Linked DNA regions of Homo sapiens. The protein of the gene in region 1 interacts with the protein of each later gene in a pairwise test. Each region holds a gene or a part of one and is shown in the gene's direction. Other genes may lie near its edges.

Region 1 (7,129 bases):
GGGTACTGTTGGAAAAGCATGATTGGTTTTGAAATTTGAAAGGGACTTGAGATTTGAGAGGGGCTGGGGTGAAATGATATGGTTAGGCTTTGTGTCCCCACCCAAATTTCATCTTGAATTGTAATCCCCATAATCCCCAAATGTTAAGGGAGAGACCAGGTGTAGGTAATTGAATCATGGGGGCAGTTTCCCCAGTGCTGTTCCCAGGATAGTGAGTTCTCATGAGATCTGGTGGCTTTATAAAGGGCTCTTTCCCCCTGCGTTCTGCACTTCTCCTTCCTGCCACCATGTGAAGAAGGTGCCTTGCTTCCCCTTCACCTTCTGCCATGATTGTCAGTTTCTTGAGGCCTCCCCAGCCACACTGAACTGTGAGTCAATTAAACCTCTTTCCTTTGTAAATTAACGAGTCTTGGGCAGTTCTTTTTAGCAGAATGAAAACAGACTAATACAATAGAGTCTAGCAATAGAGTGGAGAACAACATAGTTACAAGCTCTGCCCTCAGGGAAAAGAAAACAATAATCACATAAATAATTAGAATTGTCATAAATACTCTGAAATAAAAGTAAAAAATGCTAAGAGATCCATCATATTTTCCAGTTGGAAGGCAGGGAATGTTTCTCCCAAAAAGGTTATTTAAGCCGAGTTCTGAAGATAATATGATTTAGTCAGATGAAGGCCTGGTTATATGTGTGTTGATGGAGAATGGACAGAGAGAGTTGATCTAGCCTGGAAGAGTTGGACAGGTCTGAGGATTCAAAGCAAGTCAGTAGGGCTGGTAACACATATATGAGCAGAAACTGTGTTGTATTGGGCTGCTGAGTCTGGAAAAATACATAGGATTTTGGATGCCTTTGCAGACCAAGCAGCTAAGGACCAGCACATTTCATGGTGACTTGATGGTGTGCAAATTTGGTCCCTCTGATGAATCTTCTAGTTGAAATAATTTATCACTGTGAAATTAAGTCATCAAGTATAAGATGACCAGCTGACTTTTAGCCAGGTAGACAAGCTATCGACTTGGTATGATGAAACATCACTGAGTTCATTTTTATGCCTTTGTTTCCTCTCTGTCTCAGCTGCAAGTGTCCACTGCTTGGGAAAGTGTGGGAAGCTGACTTGGAAGCTTGTCGATTGCTTATCCAGAGCCTACAGCTCCAGGAAGCCAGGGGAAGCCTGTCTGTAGAAGATGAGAGGCAGATGGATGACTTAGAGGGAGCTGCTCCTCCTATTCCCCCCAGGCTCCACTCCGAGGATAAAAGGAAGACCCCTTTGAAGGTATTGGAAGAATGGAAGACTCACCTCATCCCCTCTCTGCACTGTGCTGGAGGTGAACAGAAAGAGGTCTGTCCTTTTCACATGGCCTCCAGAGGGGACCCTTATTCTAAGGGGTGCTTTGGGACCATGCTCCAAATGGGAACAATAAATATTGGGAAGGCTTCCCATTGAGCATATAAACTTTTAAAAGTTTCAATAACTCTTGAATATGATTACAAAATAAAGTAGAATTTTTGTAGAAGTTTGAAATATAGAAGAGCAAAAAAACCCAACTTTTGGCATATTTAGTTCCATTTTCATTCTAATTTAGTGGCTAGAATTAGAATATGCAGTCTAATATAGAATTACCATATATAGCATACATTATATATGTCATATATAATATAGTTATTATATTCACTATAGATTATATATGCCATACATGATATTTAACATATATACTATACATTATGTATTGTATGTCATATATGATGTTTATATATTTAGAATCTATATATTACAATATATTATTATTTATTTGAATGAAACATTCAAATATATGTATTTATCCCATTAATTGTTTTTACCAAAACCAGATCATAATGAATGTTTATAATGTTCTTCTTTCATAAACACAACTAAAGTTTGGCCTGAGATATATGTATTACAAATTAAAATATGGTTTTATTTAACTTTCTTTTTCTCTCCCCTCTTTCCTCTCTCCCTTCCCCTTCCACTCCTCACTTTCCTCCTCCCACCCTAACAAGAGTCTTTTCCATAAAAAGGCCCTAGGAAGTTTTTCCTGATTTCAGTGCCATGACCTGAGTCTTCAGAGCTCTTTGTTGGCCCAGGTTCACAGGTGTTGTGAGTGTGGAAAGGAAATAGCATGGAGAGGCTGGAGGAACTTGACACATGGCTTTCAAGTCTCATGGTTGATGTTAGATGTTAGCTGTGCTTCCTCCCTGGGTCTTTGCCAGGACTCACCACTGGTGGGTGGGGAAATTGCCACCTCCCCAGGCCAGCCCTGCCAGTCTCACATCCCATCTGCAGGACCATGGCCTTCAGAGAGCAGACATTTGTGTTCTTAGTCACTGCCTCTGGACTGCTTAGAAAATCGATCCTTGATCCTATATTTGGATTCCATGGTCTTATAAGAAAGCAACCACTGTCACTCTGCATCCTTGCTGGCCCAGTCACAGGCTCTACGTTAATTTATAGACATCTGAACTCGTTTGTTAACCCAGGTGCTACAGGTGGAATCCTCCAGCAAAGCCTGGTCTCCAATGCTCTGGGTAGAGGTGTTGAAAAGTTACCACCTGCTGCAAGTGGATGGCTTGAAAGAATATTCTGGGGTGGAGGGAAGTGCCACCTAAGCAAGGGTTTATTCCTGGGTGGAAGAAACTGCAGGCTCTGGGAATGAGTCTTTGAAGGTGTGTCTGGCTTTCCAAAGTGAGCTACCAGGAGGAGCTCGGTGTGGGGCAGTCAGAAGCCATGCCAGGTATGTGATGGAGTCCCTGGGTCATTGATTCTGCTGGAGGCCAGGACTGATTCAGCAGAGATCCCTTTCTCCTGTAGCGGAGAAAAATGAATATCTTTCCTTTACCCATCTAAAGGTTCTCAGCTGAGGCACCTATACAGACAGAGTAACAAGAGAAAAATGTACAAATGTGCTTAATATAAAATTTACATGACACAGGAGCCTGCAAAAATGAAGACCCAAAGCAACAGAAACCAGTGTATTTTTATGCTTAAGTTTGAAGAATAGCAGACAGATGTGGAGAAGTATAATTGGACAAAAGGAGTATGATTTAATGGCAATAAACTGGGGGGAGCTTAGCAAGGCCTGTTTGCTCGGATTCTTCGCTGCATCCCTGTGTCTTCAGAGATAAGGATACTCCTTTCCTTTGGGTATAGGTTGTACACTTTAAAGATGAGGGTGTTATAATCTACTTTAGAGGAAGGTCAGATAATTATTTATGGCCTGCTTCAGGAAAGAATGGCTGCAGAAGGTCAGAGAGACTTTCCTGCTTCTGCTGTTCCTCAAATGCCAAGGTGCCATATTTTGGGGTAGTGTATTCTGAACCCCATCACTCTCTCCCTCCCTTTCTCCCTCCTTCTCTGCCCTGCCCACTGAGCCCTGAGCCCTCCAGGTTCTCTGGGGACAGACTTTCCCAGGCATAGGAGGATTCGTTTTCCTGCATAGCATTATAAGCACCTGTCAATTTCACTATCTGGCTATAAGAACACAGAGCTATATTTGTTGAAAAATAGGAAGCTTGGGGTCAAGGATGAAAAAAGAGTGGAGCCTTATCCTAGGTCCTGTGGTGGCTGCTGTTTGGGTGCTCCAGGGGTCCCCCAGAAAGCCTCCCAGATCCTCTCCACCAATTGAAATGCTGAGGATGTCCTACATTTATTTGTTGCTTTCTTGGGGGTGAGTGGGTGCTTTAGAGGGGACCTTACAGCTTTTGCTGGCTTTCAGTATCATTTCCCTGTTCCTGTATCGCAGTGCTGGATTTATTTTCACAGAGAGGGCAGCCGTTCTCTGAATTCATGAGTGCCATGGATTTTAAGACAATGTTTTCTGAGAACGGCAAAATTATGGGGCCAGAAAACAGATAAATTGTTGCCAGGAAAGGGGAAGGGACTCATTACAAGAGCAACAGGAAGGAATTTGGTGCGTGGAAGTTGGGGGCGGTTGATAGAAGTATTCTCTCTCTTGATTGTGGTGGTAGTTACGTGACTGTGTGTATGTCTAAATCCATAATTTTACATCAGAAAGAGTGAATTTTACTGTGTATGACTTTATAACAATTATTTTAAAAAGTTTTTTTAAATGTCTACCTATTTAAAAACCGGGCTATAGATGTTTGAGTCAGTGCTTTTGTCTCAGGGCTATCAAAACGCAGTGTGGCCTGCTGGAAAGAGCACAAGGCTTGAGTCTGAGTCTGCCGTGATCCTCAGTTAGGCCTCTTACAGGCCGCATCTCCACATCTGTTAAGAAAAACACCACCACGACATAAGAGGATAATGAAAACTATCTCATGAAGCTGTGATGAAGATTTAAATAAAAGGATGCATCACGAAGTGAGAGACGCATACCTAGTAGAGGCTAATTTGTGTTAACTTTTGTTTCTATCACTCTTTCTGGCAGTCACAAGCATCTCTAAAATGCTTTTTGCATGCATAATGCTAGCAACAGCTATTTGTTTGTATGACTCAGTCTCCAGGCTTAACTTTCCCTTTTGCATAAGGAGTTTGGGGGTGCTTGAGATTGTTACATTTTCCTTTACATGTATAATATACTCACTTTTTGTCAAGAAGTAGACATGAGCAATGAGTTAGTGGAAGATACCCAGTCAGAGAAAGGTTTAACGAAGGAAAACTCCCGTTTGTATTCGGGTCCAGGATTTTAGACTACAGAAGGTATGGGGAAATGATAACAAGGGCCTCATTAGGAAGGTGCTTTTGTTTTCCTGCCTGTGTTTTCCGGGAGCCATTGAAGTCTGGGTACTTTGCATTTATCCTGTGGCTAAAATGTCTATTCGCTTTGCAGCTCTGGGTTGGTTTTGCTTTAGAACTCCGTGCTGGGTCTGACCATCCTATACTGGTTTCTCTACTGAAGCTTGATGCCCTGAAGGCAGTCAATTTCTTTTTGACCCAAATCTTCCATGAAAAATTACTGACTTCTTATAGAGGTCCACAGGAAGATGAGTTTTCAAAGCCTTTCCCGTGCTTATCTGGCCAACGTGGTGATGTGCATTCTGGTGATACTTTGTTATCACAAGGGCTTTGTCGTTGATCGACACCTTCCTGGGTCTACGGTCCTTGCCAGGCTGCTGAGCACCATTCCCCCATTTTACAGCTGGGCCCATTAAGGTGAAGCAATTTGCTTTGGACTTTGTTACAGAGGAAGTCAGCAACAGGGCTCAGTGCCAATCTTAGCATGAACTTCCTCGAATTGTAAGAGCCCTTTTCTTTTCCAGTTTCATGACAGCTCTCCTCCAAGCCTTTCTGAGGACTCTGGAAACTATCAGCTGCTGTTGGCCCTGGTTCGTAGATGTTACAGAAATTGAATGGGGGCCAGACAGGAGCCAGGGAAATCAGTGAGCCAGGCTTCCTCCGCTGTGAAGTGGCTCTTTTGTACGGGCTGTTCTGGCCATAATACCTGCGTAATTTTTTTCTTTCCTGTCTGCAACCTAGCCTGCGGGGTGCTTTCTGTTTCCATTGCTTTTTCTACATAATGGGCTCCCTGGACAGTACCACTCTCCCAGACTTCTCATCCCAGCTGCTTCCTTTCTGAGCCAGTAGCTCTCACCAAAGAGGCCAAAAGAGGACCTGGCAATGTTGAGTCATTGCGTGCAGTATGTGAGTAGCCAGTGTGTGAACACAGCTGCAGTGAACGGAATTAGCAATAAGACACAACGCAACCAGGTAGCCTCATTTGTTCAGATTGAGGTCTTCAAAAAGCATTTTAAGTTTACGGGTGGAAAGGTGTGATACCTTTCCTCAGCCATCATTAAGGGCTAACACTCCTATAACAAAAACAAGTTAACGAGAAAAACATAACACATTTATTTAATCAGAGTTTTACATGGCACAGGAGGCTTCAGAAATGAAGACCCAAAGACCCAGGAAAAACTATTTTTATGCTCAGATTTAATGCAGAATAGTCAGCTATGAAGGAATGTGATTGGACAAAATGGGTATGATCTAATGGTTATAGACTGGGGGGTGAGCGGACCAGCAAGCCCTGTCTGTTCAGATTCTTCTTGGACGCTCTGCATAGTATTTATTCCTCTTGGGTATGGGGCCGGACTCCTCTAAATGGAGGGCCTTCAAGGGAGAAGGAAGAGAGTGACCTTTCTAGGTTTTATGTTTGCTTTGAGGGAGAGGAGTCCTAGTTTCTAAGACTGGCTTTGAGGAAGAGGAATTCTGGTTTCTATGGCTTGCATCCAGGGAGAAAAAGGAGTGTGAGAGGGGAGGGCAAGAGAAGGCAGAGAGATCTTGCTTCTGAGGCCTTCCAATCTCCTTTGGTTCAAAGTACTCAGGCATACCAAAGTGTCACACTTAGGGGTATCATACTGTGAGCCACAACATAAATATCTCCATTCCTTTTTACTCAATTTCACATAAAAAAAGCTGGAAAAGGTGATCCACAATGAAGATGTTTGTCCTCCTTGTCTTAAACTGATTTCTATATCTAGAAATGTCTTTATTGGGCAAAAGTGCTTCCTCTTCAGCCATAATGGGTGCAGATCTGATTCTTTCTCTTCTCTGACACTTACTGGCCCTGGGACAGCTGGAAACTCACTTTGACTCTCCAAGGAGCACATCCCTAAATGTGTGATCTCTTGATATCTCTCCCACTTTTGAAAAGAACTGACAAGGGAAAAATGTTCACTTACCCATCAGCTGGTTTTGCTCTTTTTGTTTAATGTCTTTGGGGAGAAAGCAAAGAGCTAGGACATGAAGAAAACTTCTATCTCCACTACATTTTGAAGTTTTGCAAACCCAGCCATCTTTCCCAAGAGCAGAGCAGTAGAAGCAACCAGGATGCAACCAGGGTTGGTAATTGGTTGGTTAATTAAAAAGTCAGAAAAGACAGAGAGTCATAAAAGATGATGCATGCGTATTTTAAACCTTTTTGTTTCTAGCTGAAAACATGCCCTCTCATTTGCTATTCATTCGATATAGGACCAAGTATTTCTGTTTGTAGAGCCTGCTGATTGGCTTTTCACATGACCCTCGTTGTGTAAACCTCACCTATCATGCATCATTAACAGTTTCCACTTTTGGTGTCTTTAAAGTGGGCTGGAAACGTTAAGAGCACTTGCAAAACAATTCTCAGCCTCCCCCTCTCTCTTAAATGTTATT
Region 2 (7,000 bases), on another chromosome or scaffold:
TCTTGATGTGACTAGCTTCAATGGAATCGGCTCCTTCCATCCCAGCATGAAGCAATCCTGTATAACTTGCACACCCTCCCATTCTAAGGCCTCTCCTCTCATACCCTTGCCCAGTATCCTGTGAGATCCTGCCTCTCAGATTCCTCCCTCACCTTTTCAAACCCGGATTGTCTTTCACCCTTCCACAGGGCCTCCTCTTCCTGCCTTCCTCTTATTTGTCCCCTCAGCCATCCTCACCTCACCAATCTTGATAATTGATTACAATATAAATCTCCCTTCCATCTCAGGTCTGCTCCTTTCTTCCTCCACTCTCTTGTGCATCTATCTCCAGGGCCATGCGTATGCCCCTGCTGCTTTCAGCTCTGCTTCCTTCATATGCTGCACTGTTCCACCAAACTTCATCAGTCTCTTCGGTTTATCCAGAGAACTACACTCTTCTCTGGGAACTTCTGATGACTTCTGATAATAGATCACCAAAGGATCTTGGTTTTTTAGAGGGCAGGGAGAGAGCCCTTTGAAGTCCTTCAGAATCAATCTAGCTGTGTCTCCTGGACACCCTCCCACTATCCTATCCTGTTATGAAGCTGCTTGCTGTATATGCCCTCAGAGTAGAATGCTTTGGGTGTCAGCTTCTGCAGGCACTGAATTAGCCCCATTGTTTTCCAAGCCCTGGGAAAACTTGATAATCCCCAACCACTGAAGTCTGAAGAGTCAGTAGCAAAATGTGACATCAAAGATCCACATCCAAAAGTCTATTCTGTGGGTCACCAAATTCCCAGGTCTCTTATAATGTACTTATTGGCTGTGCAGCAATAAATACAGCAGAAACTAAAACTAGAGTTGAGGAAAGGGTATACCCTGGGTTCTACAACTGCTGTGGGTGGATTTTAAAAAGGAGTTCTTGCCTTAGATTTGTTTACTTAGGGCACAGAACTTATTCTGCCTTGTATTTGAGTTATTTGTGTACTTTTCTCAACCCCACTCTGTGAGCTCTGTGAGAACAGAGACTAGGTTTTCTTTTTTCTTTTCTTTTCGAGATGGAGTCTTACTCTGTCACCCAGGCTGGAGTGCAGTGGTGCAGTCTTGGCTCACTGCAACCTCCTCCTCCTGAGTTCAAGTGATTCTCACACCTCAGCCTCCCAAGTAGCTGGTGTTACAGGCGCCTGCAACCATGCCCAGCTAATTTTTGTATTTTTAGTAGAGACAGGGTTTCACCATGTTGGCCAGACTGATCTCTAACTCCTGACCTCAGGTGATCCACTCGCCTCAGCCTCCCAAAGTGCTAGGATTACAGGCATGAGCCACTGCACCTGGCTGGTTTTCTTTATCTTCTGTCTTCATCTCTTCCCTCACATTTAGCAGGTAGTCAGTACTTACCTGTTGGATTAAATTAACTCACTCAGAAATTCTGCATCAGGTGTACAAAAGTAAAAGCAGTTCATGTCTACATTCATTTTGTGGACACAACACCCCTCCCCAAAGTTCTCCAAACATGATAATGGGCATGTCCCTTGATTTAAACGTCGGTAATTTAGACACTTCCTTTTTTAGTCATTGCTCGGGTGGGGGAATGGGTGTAAGTGCTTTTCTTTTTCTACTGTATTTCTGGTAAGATAGGTTGTTTGACGCAGTTGCTCAAATACAGTGGTAACAGCATCAGGGGCTGTCTTATATAAATCTGTTCTCAAGAAAACAGCTAGTTTGAAATATTTAGTGTGGGTTGCAGAGACGATTAAGGAACAGAGGAAACCAAGGAGGCAAAATGTTGGTAATTTTTGAAGTTGGATAATGGGTTCAAGAGGTTCATTATACCATTCTTTCCATTTTTGTGTATGTTGGAAATCCATTATAAAAAGATTAAAGGCAGGGGCAGCTAGGTGAACAAGTGCAAATTTAGCACTGTTCCTTGGAAAACACCTCAGAGCAAATGAGCTACTGTTTCTGAATCAGTACTGTTATCTAGGTTAAGTAGTATATTTAGTCCTAACCTTTCTCTGACCTCTTCTGTTTGTGAGATATCAGGATGCTAAATTTAAAAATTAGCACCCTGCAGAATTCTGTACCTAGTGGCCTGGGAATTGTAACATCCTGGCATCAAGCACCTGTTGCACTGCTTCTCAGCTTAGGTATGGTTTCTGGTGGAATAGGGCTGGACTGGACCTGAGAAGAGGGTGAGGCAGTAAGGAGGAAAGAGGGACTGAGGGCTGGAGAGAGACCAGAGCTCTACTAGGGTCTTCCCCTTCTTGCCTAAAGGTTTCAAGTTACTGGGAGATCCTAAAGGTATATATATTCATTCATTCACTGATTCATTCATCCCACAAATATTTGGTGAATATCTGCTGTGTGCCAGGTACTTTTCTAGGTACTGGGAATAGAGCAGTGAGCTCACTGTTTGAGGAATGGACAGGGTAGAGACAGACAATAAACAAATAAGTAAAATATATATTGAGAAAATTAAGCAGAGAAGGGAGATAGAAAGTGCCAGGAGTAGGCCAGGTGCAGTGGCACACACCTGTAATCCCAGCACTTTGGGAGGCTGGGTTGGGTAGATAACATGAGGCCAGGAGTTTGAGACCAGCCTGGCCAACATGGCGAAACCCCAGCTCTACTAAAAATACAAAAATTAGCCAGGCGTGGTGGCAGGCACCTGTAATCCCAGCTACTCGGGAGGCTGAGGCACGAGAATCACTTCAACCCAGGAGGCAGAGGTTGCAGTGAGCTGAGATCACGCTGCTGCACTCCAGCCTGGGCGACAGAGCGAGACTCTGTCTCAAAAAAAAAAAAAAAAGAAGAAGAAGAAGAAGAAAATGCCAGGATTCTGGGTGTTAAAATTTTAAATAGGGTAGTTGAAGAGGTTCCCACTAAAAAGGTAACATTTGAGCAAAGACCTGAAGGAAGTTAGGGGGTAAGTCAAGCATACATCTAGGGGAAATTTATTCCAGTCAGGAAGAACAGCAAACACAAAGGCCCTGAGGCAGGAATGTGCCCTATATATTCAAGAAACATGAGGAAGCCAGCCAATACGGCTGCAGTATATTAGTGAGAGAAGAAATGGCAGATGTTGCGGTGGGGGTGAATTGGGGGCAGATCACACAGGCCACTGGCTTGTAGTGTGAGTTGTGAGTGAGATGGTAGCCATTAGAGAATTCTAGGCAGATAAATAACATGGCCTGACATATTGAAAAGGTCATTGTGGCTGCTGTGTTGAGAATAAGCTATAACGGGGCAAAAATGGAAGGAGAGAAACTGGTTAGGAGGCTACTACAATAGTCTAAACAAGAGAAGTTGGTGGCTTGAACCCAAGGTGAAGCAATGGAAAGGTGAGAAGTGGTTGGCTTCTGGATGTATTTGGAAAGGAGCCAACAGGATTTGCTGATGGACTGGATGTGATATATAAAAGAAATAGCAGTTGAGGGTGGCTACAATTTTTTTTTTTTTCAAGACATCTCGCTCTGTCGCCCACGGTGGAGTGCAGTGGCGTGATCTCAGCTCACTGCAACCTCCGCCTCCTGGGTTCAAGTGATTCTTCTGCCTCAGCCTCCTGAGTAGCTGGGACTACAGGTGCATGCCAGCGCACCCGGCTAATTTTTGTATTTTTAGTAGAGATGGGGTTTCACCATATTTGCCAGGCTGGTCTCAAACTCCTGAACTCGTGATCTGCCTGGCTCCCACATTTTTGGCCTAAGTAACAAAATGGTAAAATTCCCATCTACTGAAATTGGGGAGCCTGGAAGGAGGGCAGGTTGTTAGAAGGAGGAGATAAGGAATTCACTCTTGAACATGTCAAGTTCGAAGTGTTTTTTGGATATCAAAGTCGAGATGTTGAGTAAGCAGCTGGATATTCAAGTCTTTTGGAGCCTAGGAAATGTCTACTCTCAGGAAATAAAAGAACACCATCACCTGGCAAGAGACAGCGGAGTATGGGAAGAACACTGGTGGTCAGGTGTTAGGCCCTGCTCTGCCACCAGGTAGCTATGTGATCCTTTGGGACTCCTCTGGCAACGCAGGCCTCTGTCTCTTCATCTGCAAAATGACTGCTTTATTTTATTTTATTGTCTATTTCTTTTTTTTTTTTTTTTTTTTTTGAGACGGAGTCTCGCTCGTCACCCAGGCTGAAGTGCAGTGGCGCCATCTCGGCTCACTGCAAGCTCTGCCTCCCGGGTTCACGCCATTCTCCTGCCTCAGCCTCCTGAGTAGCTGGGACTACAGGTGCCCACCACCGCGCCCGGCTAATTTTTGTATTTTTAGTAGAGACGGGGTTTCACCGTGTTAACCAGGATGGTCTCTATCTCCTGACTTTGTGATCCGCCCGCCTTGGCCTCCCAAAGTGCTGGGATTACAGGCTTGAGCCACTGCATCCGGCCCCTTATCTGTTTCTTTGACAAGGTCTTGTTCTGTCACCCAGGCTGGAGTGCAGTGGCGCAATCATGGAGGCTCACTGCAGCAGTGACCTCTCCAGCTCAATCAGTCCTCCCATGTCAGCCTCCTGAGTAGCTGGGACTACAGAGATGGGCACCACCACGCCTAGCTAATTTTTGTATTTTTGGTAGAGAGGGTTTCACCATGCTGCCCAGGCTGGTCCTGAACTCCTGGGCTCAAGCCTCCACCTGCCTCGGTCTCCCAAGGTGCTGGGATTACAGGCATGAGTCACCACACCCAGCCAAAATGACCACTTTAGACTAGGAATGAGTTGTGTTCTCAGCCCCTCCTATTGTGGGAGTTGATGAATTAAGTGCTTAGAATAAACATGATAATATATGTGTATCTGAGAGCATTTTGGAAACTGCTGAGTTCTACACCAGGTAGTGGTATTGGCAATAAGATTTCTTCCTTCATTCGCTGAAGTAATACCCAGTGAGTGCCTGCCATGTGGTGGGCACTATGTCACATGAGGATACGATGATGGAGAAGACGAATCTGTGCCCTCAGGGAGCACCGCAGACAACCCCCTGTTGTGGCTTCACTGCCAAGTGCAGACGAAACATGGGGCTGGAGTGTGACATTAGCCAGGGAAAGCTTGTTCCTGATCTGGGTCTCCGTGGAAACAGTGAACGTGCATGTCAAAGATGAGGCAAGATGGTAATCCCGATGAGGGAAAAGTCATCCACTTAGCTGGACTAGGGAAGAGTTGGGAGTGGTTGGGAAGGGTTGGAGTGGTGGGGGCTTCAGTTCCTTCCCTCCTCCATTCTTTCGTTCAACATTTACTTCCTTGCCAGGAGCTTCTCTTAGAAGCTCACAGTTCTGTGGTAGATGAAGAGTTTCATATCTGGTCTCAGGAGTTCAACTTAGATATTACAATAAGCAGAACTGAATCAGGATTCAAATCTGAGCTAAAGAGCTCAGTTAGCTATGTAACCTAGTAGTATTAATCATTTGGTATCTGTGGGCACATTCTTTGTTAGGTGCTAATTAGGCTGAAAGGCATGCTCTCCAGGAACTTAAATTATAATCACTGTAACAGAAAGTAAGAATGTTATTTTCCCCTAAAAGAGTCAGGTGTTAAGGAAAACACACTCCGTGGCAGTGTAACCCTTTAACTGCATCTGGAAACTGTCCCTGTGGCTGTGTTTATTCTTGTGTCATTTAGATGTCTACGTTTATATCGTGAGGAGAGTCTCTTTGACCAGATAAGAGTATAAGATATAGCTCATCCTAATTGACAAAATTAGTCACCCACAAAATTAGTTTAGAGGAGACATAGTCAACATCTACCACGTAATGGAATGGGGAAATTTTGTCCTGGAGAGTGAAAAAAGAAAAAACAAACAAACAAAAAAAACGAAACCTGGCCGGGTGTAGTGGCTCACACCTGTAATCCGCACTTTGGGAGGCTGAGATGGGCAGATCACGAAGTCAGGAATTCAAGACCAGCCTGGCCAACATGGTGAAACCCCATCTCTACTAAAAATACAAAAATTAGCTGGGCATGGTGGCGTGCAGGAGAATTGCTTGAACCAGGACCCAGGAGGCGGAGGTTGCAGTGAGCCAAGATCGCACCATTGCTCTCCAGCCTGGGCTATAGAACAAGACTTCATCTCAAAAAGAGAGAAAAAAAAAAAAAAAACCACCTGCAATACAAATCCAAGTGCAGCTGAAGCCATTGTCTTTAACAGATGGCCCTAACCTGTTTTGAGTGCTGTTTCCTAAAGCTGCCAACAAACTTCAAATGCCTTTTACCCTGGCAGCTATCAGTCAAGATATAGAAATGTGATGGTCTCACAAATCCTATGCAATTGTCTCTTTTGCTGGCAAAAGTATGAGGCCAGCCGGGTGTGGTGGCTCATGTCTGTAATCCCAGCACTTTGGGAGGCTGAGGCGGGTGGTTCACCTGAGGTCAGGAGTTCGAGACCAGCTTGGCAAACATGGTAAAACCCCATCTCTACTAAAAATACAAAAATTTGCCGGGCATGGTGGCAGGCGCCTGTAGTCCCAGCCACTGGGGAGGCTGAGGCAGGAAAATAGCTTGAACCTGGGAGGCGGAGGTTGTGGTGAGCTAAGATCATGCCATTGCACTCCAGCCTGGGCGACAGAGCGAGACTCTGTCTCAAAAAAAAAAAAAAAAAAAAAAATGTATGAGGCGTACTCAGGCTCCTCTCTTCCAGTTCAGAATCAGAAGGATTTGTGATGTTGGACAGGTCATTCGGGGTCTCAGGCTCATTATACTGTCATTACCTGGAAGCCAGAGTGCCTCTTTTCTAGTGCCTCTATTTGACATTCCCTTAGAGCTGGCCCTCTGGTGAATAGTTCATCCCTAAGAAGGCCAGATACAACTTGTTACCCTGGTACTATCTCACTTCATCACTTCATTTGTTGGGAGTTCCTGCTACTTTTGGATGGTTGATAAAGCATGAGACCCATACAGTTAAGATAAGAACCAAGGAACTGGGAGCTCTTTGAGGTTGTAGAACTGACTTGAGGCTTTGATGTTGGGGATTTGGCAGGGGTGCCTAAGACCAGAGTTCTTTCTCTGAGATCATCTTCTCAACCCAGGAAATACTGT
Region 3 (7,000 bases), on another chromosome or scaffold:
CCCTGAGCTAGACATAGGGTGCTGATTGGTGTGTTTACAAACCTTGAGCTAGATACAGAGTGCTGATTGGTGCACTCACAATCCCTTAGCTAGACACAAAGGTTCTCCAAGTCCCCACTAGACTCAGGAGCCCAGCTAGGTTCACCCAGTGGATCCTGCACCAGGGCCCCAGGCGGAGGTGCCGGCCAGTCCCGCTGTGTGCCCGCACTCCTCAGCCCTTGGGCTTTTGATGGGACCAGGTGCTGCGGAGCAGGGGGTGGCGCTCGTTGGGGAGGCTGGGGCGCGCAGGAGCCCACGGTGGCAGGGGGAGGCTCAGGCATGGCGGGCTGCCGGTCCCCAGCCCTGCCCTGCGGGGAGGCAGCTAAGGCCCCGTGAGAAATTGAGCACAGCAGCTGCTGGCCCAGGTGCTAAGCTCCTCACTGCCAGGGGCTTGCGGCCAGCCGGCTGCTTGGAGTGTGGGCCTGCGGAGCCCACACCCACCCAGAACCCTCACTGGCCGGCAAGCGCTGCGCGCAGCCCCAGTTCTCACCGGCACCTCTCACTCCACACCTGCCTGCAAGCTGAGGGAGCCAGCTCCGGCCTTGGCCAGCCCAGAGAGGGTCTCCCACAGTGCAGCAGCAGGCTGAAGGGCTCCTCAAGCACCGCCAGAGTGGGCGCCAAGGCCGAGGAGGTGCCCAGAGTGAGCGAGGGCTGCGAGGGCTGCCAGCATGCTGTCACCTCTCACTATGAACATTTCATGTGCAGGTTTTTGTGTGGATATATTGTTAAACTCATTTAGGTAAATATGATCACTGGATCATATGGCAAGACTGTTTAGCTTTGAAAAAGACTACCCAATTGTCTTGCAAAGTGGCTTTTCCATTTTGCATCCCCACCAGCAATAAATAGAAATTCTTGTTGCTTCACATTCTTGCCATCATTTGATGTTGTCAATGTTTTGGATTCTAGCCATTCTAATAGGTATGTAATGGTATCTCATTTTTGTTTTAATTTGCAATTTCCTGATTACATATGATGCTGAACATCTTTTCATATGTCTATTTGCCATCCATATTTCTTTTTTGTTGAGGAGTTTGTTCAGATCTTTTGCCCACTTTTCTTTTTTTTCTTTTTTTGAAACGGCGTTTCACTCTTGTTGCCCAGACTGGAGTGCAATGGCATGATCTCGGCTCACTGCAACCTCCACCTCCCAGGTTCAAGCAATTCTCCTGCCTCAGCCTCCTGAGTAGCTGGGATTACAGGCTCCTGCCACCACGCCCAGCTAATTTTTATATTTTTAGTCGACACAGGGTTTAACCATGTTGGCCAGACTGGTCTGGAACTCCCAACCTCAGGTGATCCACCCACCTCAGCCTCCCAAAGTGCTGGGATTACAGGCATGAGCCACCATGCCCGGCCTTGCCCACTTTTTAACTGGGGTATTTTCTTATTATTAAGTTATCAGAATTCTTTGTATATGTTGGATGTAGTCCTTTGTCAAATATGTGTCTGGCAGGTTTTCTTCCAGTCTCTATGGCTTCTCTTTTCTTTCATTTTCTTGTTTTTTATTTTTTTTTATTTTTTGAGTCTTTCTCTGTAGCCCAGGCTGGAGTGCAGTGGAGTGATCTCAGCTTACTGCAACCTCCACCTCCCGGGTTCAAGCGATTCTCCTGCCTCAGCCTTCCGAGTAGCTGGGACTGCAGGTGCACACCAACATGCCCAGCTAATTTTTTTATTTTCAGTAGAGACAGGGTTTCACCATGTTGGCCAGGCTGGTCTCAAACTCCTGACCTCAGGTGATCCGCCTGCCTCAGCCTCCTAAAGTGCTGGGATTACAGGCATGAGCCACCATTCCCGGCCTCTTTTCATTTTCTTAACAGTATCTTTCACAGAGTAGAAGTTTATAATTTTAATGAAGTTGAATTTATCAATTTTTTTTGTTTCATGTATCATGCTTTTGGTATTATATATGAAAACTCATAGCCAAACCCAAGGTCAGCTAGATTTTCTCCTGTATTACCTTCTAGAAGTTTTGCAGTTTACATTTCAGTATATAACCCATTTTGAGTTAATATTTGTGACAGGGATGAGGTCTGTGTCTAGATTCACTTTTTTACATATGGATATTCGTTGTTCCAGCACCATTGCCTTTGTTTCTTTGTCAAGGATCAGTTGACTCTATTTATGTGGATCTATTTCTGGGCTCTTTATTTGGTTTCATTGATTCATTTGTCTGTTTCTTCACCAATACCACACTGTCTTAATTACTATCATTTTATAGTAAGTCTTTTTTTTTTTTTGAGATGGAGTTTTGCTCCTGTTGGCCAGGCTGGAGTGCAATGTCACGATCTCAGCTCACTGCAACCTCTGCCTCCTGGGTTCAAGCGATTCTCCTGCCTCAGCCTCCCAGGTAGCTGGGATTACAGGTGCCCACCACCACACCTGGCAATTTTTGTATTTTTAGTAGAGACGGGGTTTTACCACATTTGCCAGGGTGGTCTTGAACTCCTGACCTCAGGTGATCCACCCACCCGCCTCGGCCTCCCAAAGTGCTGGGATTACAGGTGTGAGCCACCACGCCTAGCCTAGTAAGTCTTAAGGTCAGGTAGTGTCAGTTTTCCACCTTTGTTCTTTTTTAATATTGTGTTGGATATTCTGGATCTTTTGCCTCTCCACATAAACTTTGGAATCAATTTGTCGATATCCATACAGTAATTTGCTGGGATTTCTTTATTGCAATTGCATTGAATCTATAGATCAAGTTGGGAAGAACTGACATCTTAACAATATTCATTCTTCCTATTCATGTGCATGAGATAACTATTTGTTTAGTTCTTGATTTTATCAGAGTTTTATAGTTTATAGTCTTTTCCCAGAGTTTTATATTTCTCCTAATATAGATCTTACACATATTTTGTAAGATTTATACCTAAGTATTTCAATGTTTGTGTTAATATAAATGGCATTGCATTTTTAACTTGAGCTTTCCATTGCTTATTGCTAGTATGTGGGAAAACATTTGACTTCTGTGTATTAACCTTACTTCTTGCAACCTTGCTGCAATCACTTATAAGTTCCAGGAGTTTTTTTGTTCTTTTTTTTTTTAATAGATTCTTTGAGATTTTCTGCATAGACAATCAGTCATCTGCAACCAAGGCAATTTTATTTCTTCCTTTCCAAAATATATATCTTTTATTTCCTTTTCTTGGCTTATTCCATTAGGTAGAACTTCTAGTATGATGTTGAAAGAGAGTAGAGAGAAGGGACATCTTGTCATGTTCCCAGTCTTAGGGGTAAAGCGTGTAGTTTCTCACTGCTAAGTATGGTGGTAGCTGTATGTTTTTTGTAGATGTTCTTAATCAAATTGAAGAAGTTCCCCTCTATTCCTAGTTTACTTAGAGCTTTTATCATGAATGAGCATTGGATTTTGTCAAATGCTTTTTCTGTGTCTACTAATATGATTGTGTGACTTTTCTCCTTTAGCCTGTTGATGTGATAGGTTTATGTTAATTGATTTTCTAATGTTAAACCAGCCTTGCATACCTAAAGTAACTCCTATTTGGTCATGTGGTATAATTTTTCAAATACATCATTGGATTCAATTTGCTAATATTCTTGGAGAGGAAGTTTGTTTGTTTGGTTGGTTGGTTGTTTTTTTTTTTTTTTCTTTGAGACAGGATCTCGCTCTTTTCCCCGGTCTGGAGTGCAGTGGTGCAATCATGGCTCACTGCAGTGAGAGGAAGATCTGAGAATTACCTCCCCTCCTTTCACTTGACTGGCCCATCAAACTCTTTCTTTGCTGCAAAACTCGCTGTTTTTAGTGCATTGGTTTTCTGAACAGCAGGCAAGATGAACCCGTCAGGCTGTTACTTGCTTCCAGCTGTCTCTTCTTCCTCTTCCCTCTCCTTCCCTCTCTCCCACCTCCTCACTCTACACCTTCTCCTCATGCTGCTTTGTTCATACTCTAGGTCTCAACTACCTGAGGCTCCAGCTCAGACTTCCCTTCTGAACCCCAGACCCACCCAGCATCTCAGCCAGCCAGCTGCCCACCCAGCATCTCAAAGTCCACCACCTTGTCTGCAGCGTGGAAAACTGCTCCTCTGTCAGGGCCTGCTGTCTCCCCAGTCACTCAAACCCAAACCGCCTAGGTTTCTCCCCTCTCCTTCTCTGCATAGTTGCCTTCAGTCCCTTCCATTTGGCAGCAATTCCTCTTCCCCCTCCTCCATCTCCACTGCTACAGTTTTGATTTAGGCCCACATGGCTTCCCAGAGACCCCCTCCTAGCTAGGCCCTTTGCCTCCAGCTCTGCAGAAGGCAAAGCTGATCCTGTGTGCACCCTCTGAACATCTCCAGCGCCTCAGGATAAAGTCCAGGCTCCTTAGCTGGGCAGATCAGACCCTTCTTCTGGTGCCTCCCCAAATGTGCCCTGCCCTCTGGCCATTCTGAACCTTTCATAGTTCCCCACACTCATCACATTCTCTGCACATGCTGTTCTGGCAGGAGAGCCCGTTGCCCCCCACTCAGGCACCGTCCCTTCCCCACCCAGGTGAATTTCTTCTGCATTCAGCTTCAAATTGACTGAGATGCCTGTCTCTCCTGCAGCTTCTCTCTCCCCAGACAGCCTCTCAGAGTGCTTAACACCTCTCATTCTCAAACCAGCTGAACGTTAGGCTCACCTGGGAAGCTTTAAAAATACAAAAATGTTAGCTGGGCGTAGTGGTGCATGCCTGTAGTCCCAGCTACTCGGGAGGCTGAGGCAGGAGAATCGCTTGAACCCAGGAGATGGAGGTTGCTGTGAGCCGAGATCGTGCCATTGCACTCCAGCCTGGGCAACGAGAGTGAAACTCCATCTCAAAAAAATAAAAATAAAAATAGACACCCTGGCCACAGCCCAGATAATTAATTTCAAATCTCCACTGGCCTCATGAATAGCACAGATTAGATACTAATACTCTGGGGGCCGGTCTGGACCACAGGTGTCCTCTCAGTGCAGGCATTACTGTCTATCCCAGAGGCTCCGTTGGGCCAAGAGCACCACTTTTCATACAGTGATAATGATAATTATTTCCATGCATTCTTCCACTTAATCTCACAAACTCCCTGTGAAGTTCGTAAGTATCAGAGTCCCATTTTACAAATGGGAAACGAAAGCAAAGAGGTTAAGTAATTTGCCTGGGGCACAGTGTACATTCAATGAGTACCAGTTCCTCAGTGACTTCAAGTGCAAATTGGGAGTAGAAAAGGAGAAAAGCTTTACAAGTTACTGTGTTCATTCATTCAGTGACAATTCTACAAATGACAGTTGAAGGCCTGTTCTGGGCAAGATGTTGAGATTTAGCAAATGAATAAGGTATTAGGACCCCTGCCCTTAAGAGGTCTCTTTGTAAAGGGAAGTAATGTAAATAAAATAATAGATAATTATAATACACTGAGGTTAAGTTTAGTGATCAAGGGGTGCCCTAGGGATTCTGGGAGTCCACAGAGTGCCCTGAGGGGAATCCTAGAGGCTAACTGGGAGTTAGTGGGAAGGTAAAGGGCTGGGATGGGGAGGCCTGGGAGGAAGGCCTCCCAGGTAGAGGAGTGGCTGAAGCCAGCCTCTGAGATGCCACTGGGCTTAATCCACAGCAGGAGCCACAAACCCAAAACATCTGCTGTGGCTGATGGGAAATAAAAGTGAATCCAGCAGGTTTAAGAGAAAGAACAACATTTATGTGCAGTGATAATGGGCAGCTGATGTGCCAGCTGCAGCATCTGGAGGTGGCAGGGACAGTGGTTTAATGGAAAGAACCTATTATGCACCAAAGGAACTCTCTGCATAGCAGCTGCTGTCCGTGTGGGACGATGGGCCCAGCATTGCCAGATCTGTAAACTTTTATAAAAGAAGCTGGTGTAAACTAAACATAAAATTCAGAGGCCCCCCATCCATCTGAATGGACTTCCTTCTCAGCCAGGGCACTCCAAAGTTAACCTGAAAGACCAGTTCAGGCCTTGATGGGAAGCAAGGGTTGGACACGCCTCATTATACCCTCCTCCCTTTTGGAATTCAGGAAAAGTTGACCAACATTTAACATCAACACAGACCTTAAGTCTGATAAGAAACATTTACAATCTATTCTCTCTGAAGCCTGCTACCTGGAGGCTTCATTTGCATGATCAAAACTTTTATCTCTTTTATTCTAACCCAGATATTCCTTTCTATTTATAGTAACTCTTTTAACCAATTACCAATCAGAAAAATTTTAAATCTACTTATCACCTGGAAGCTCCCCCCTCCCAACCTTGGAGTTGTCCTGCTTTTCTGGACCAAATCGGTATATATCTTAAATGTATTTGATTGATGTCTCAGGTCTGCCTGAAATGTATAAAACCAAGCTGTGCCCTGACCACCTTGGGCACGTGGTCTCAGGATCTCCTGAGGGCTGTGTCACAGGCCATGATCACTCACATTTGGCTCAGAATAAATCTCTTCAGACTGGGTGCAGTGGCTCACACCTGTGATCCCAGCACTTTGGGAGGCTGAGGTGGGTGGATCACTTGAGATCAGGAGTTCAAGACCAGCCTGGCCAACATGGTGAAACCATGTCTCTACAAAAACATACAAAAATTATCTGGGTGTGGTGGTGCATGCCTGTAGTCCCAGCAACTCAGAAGGCTGAGGCAGGAGAATTGCTTGAGCCCAGGAGGCAGAGGTTGCAGTGAGCCAAGATTGTGCCACTGCGCTCCAGCCTGGGTGACAGAGCGAGACTTCATCTAAAAAAAAAAAAAAAAAAAAGTACATCTCTTCAAATATTTTACAGAGTTTGACTGTTTTTGTTGACACTGGAAATCTGATATTGAAACTACAATTCTTTGAATGTTGGCAACAAATTCAAATCCTAACATAGTGTTCTGTAAGAGCCAAACAAAAATGTCTGTGGGATGTGTTAAACTAACTGTAGCCTAAAGCTGCCTTCTTATATATTCTAAGTTCAGCCTAAAGGTTTCTCTGTACGTAGTAAACTGTAACCTGACTAGGAATTTAA

The links. The genes of interacting proteins can lie anywhere in the genome.
Region 2: the proteins of DISC1 (region 1) and ZNF76 interact in binary tests that used the Homo sapiens proteins (3 or more experiments, as listed by UniProt).
Region 3: the proteins of DISC1 (region 1) and CCDC13 interact in binary tests that used the Homo sapiens proteins (3 or more experiments, as listed by UniProt).

Annotation. Positions count from the first base shown.
Region 1 is NC_000001.11:232,007,708-232,014,836, forward strand, and holds part of DISC1 (disrupted in schizophrenia 1 protein), read left to right. Parts: intron 1-1,077; coding exon 1,078-1,342; coding exon of another isoform or gene 1,343-1,447; exon of another isoform or gene 1,448-1,947; intron 1,948-7,129. UniProt on the Homo sapiens protein: Involved in the regulation of multiple aspects of embryonic and adult neurogenesis. Required for neural progenitor proliferation in the ventrical/subventrical zone during embryonic brain development and in the adult dentate gyrus of the hippocampus.
Region 2 is NC_000006.12:35,262,735-35,269,734, forward strand, and holds part of ZNF76 (zinc finger protein 76), read left to right. Parts: intron 1-7,000. UniProt on the Homo sapiens protein: May be involved in transcriptional regulation.
Region 3 is NC_000003.12:42,763,254-42,770,253, reverse strand, and holds part of CCDC13 (coiled-coil domain-containing protein 13), read left to right. Parts: intron 1-7,000. UniProt on the Homo sapiens protein: Required for primary cilia formation and promotes the localization of the ciliopathy protein BBS4 to both centriolar satellites and cilia.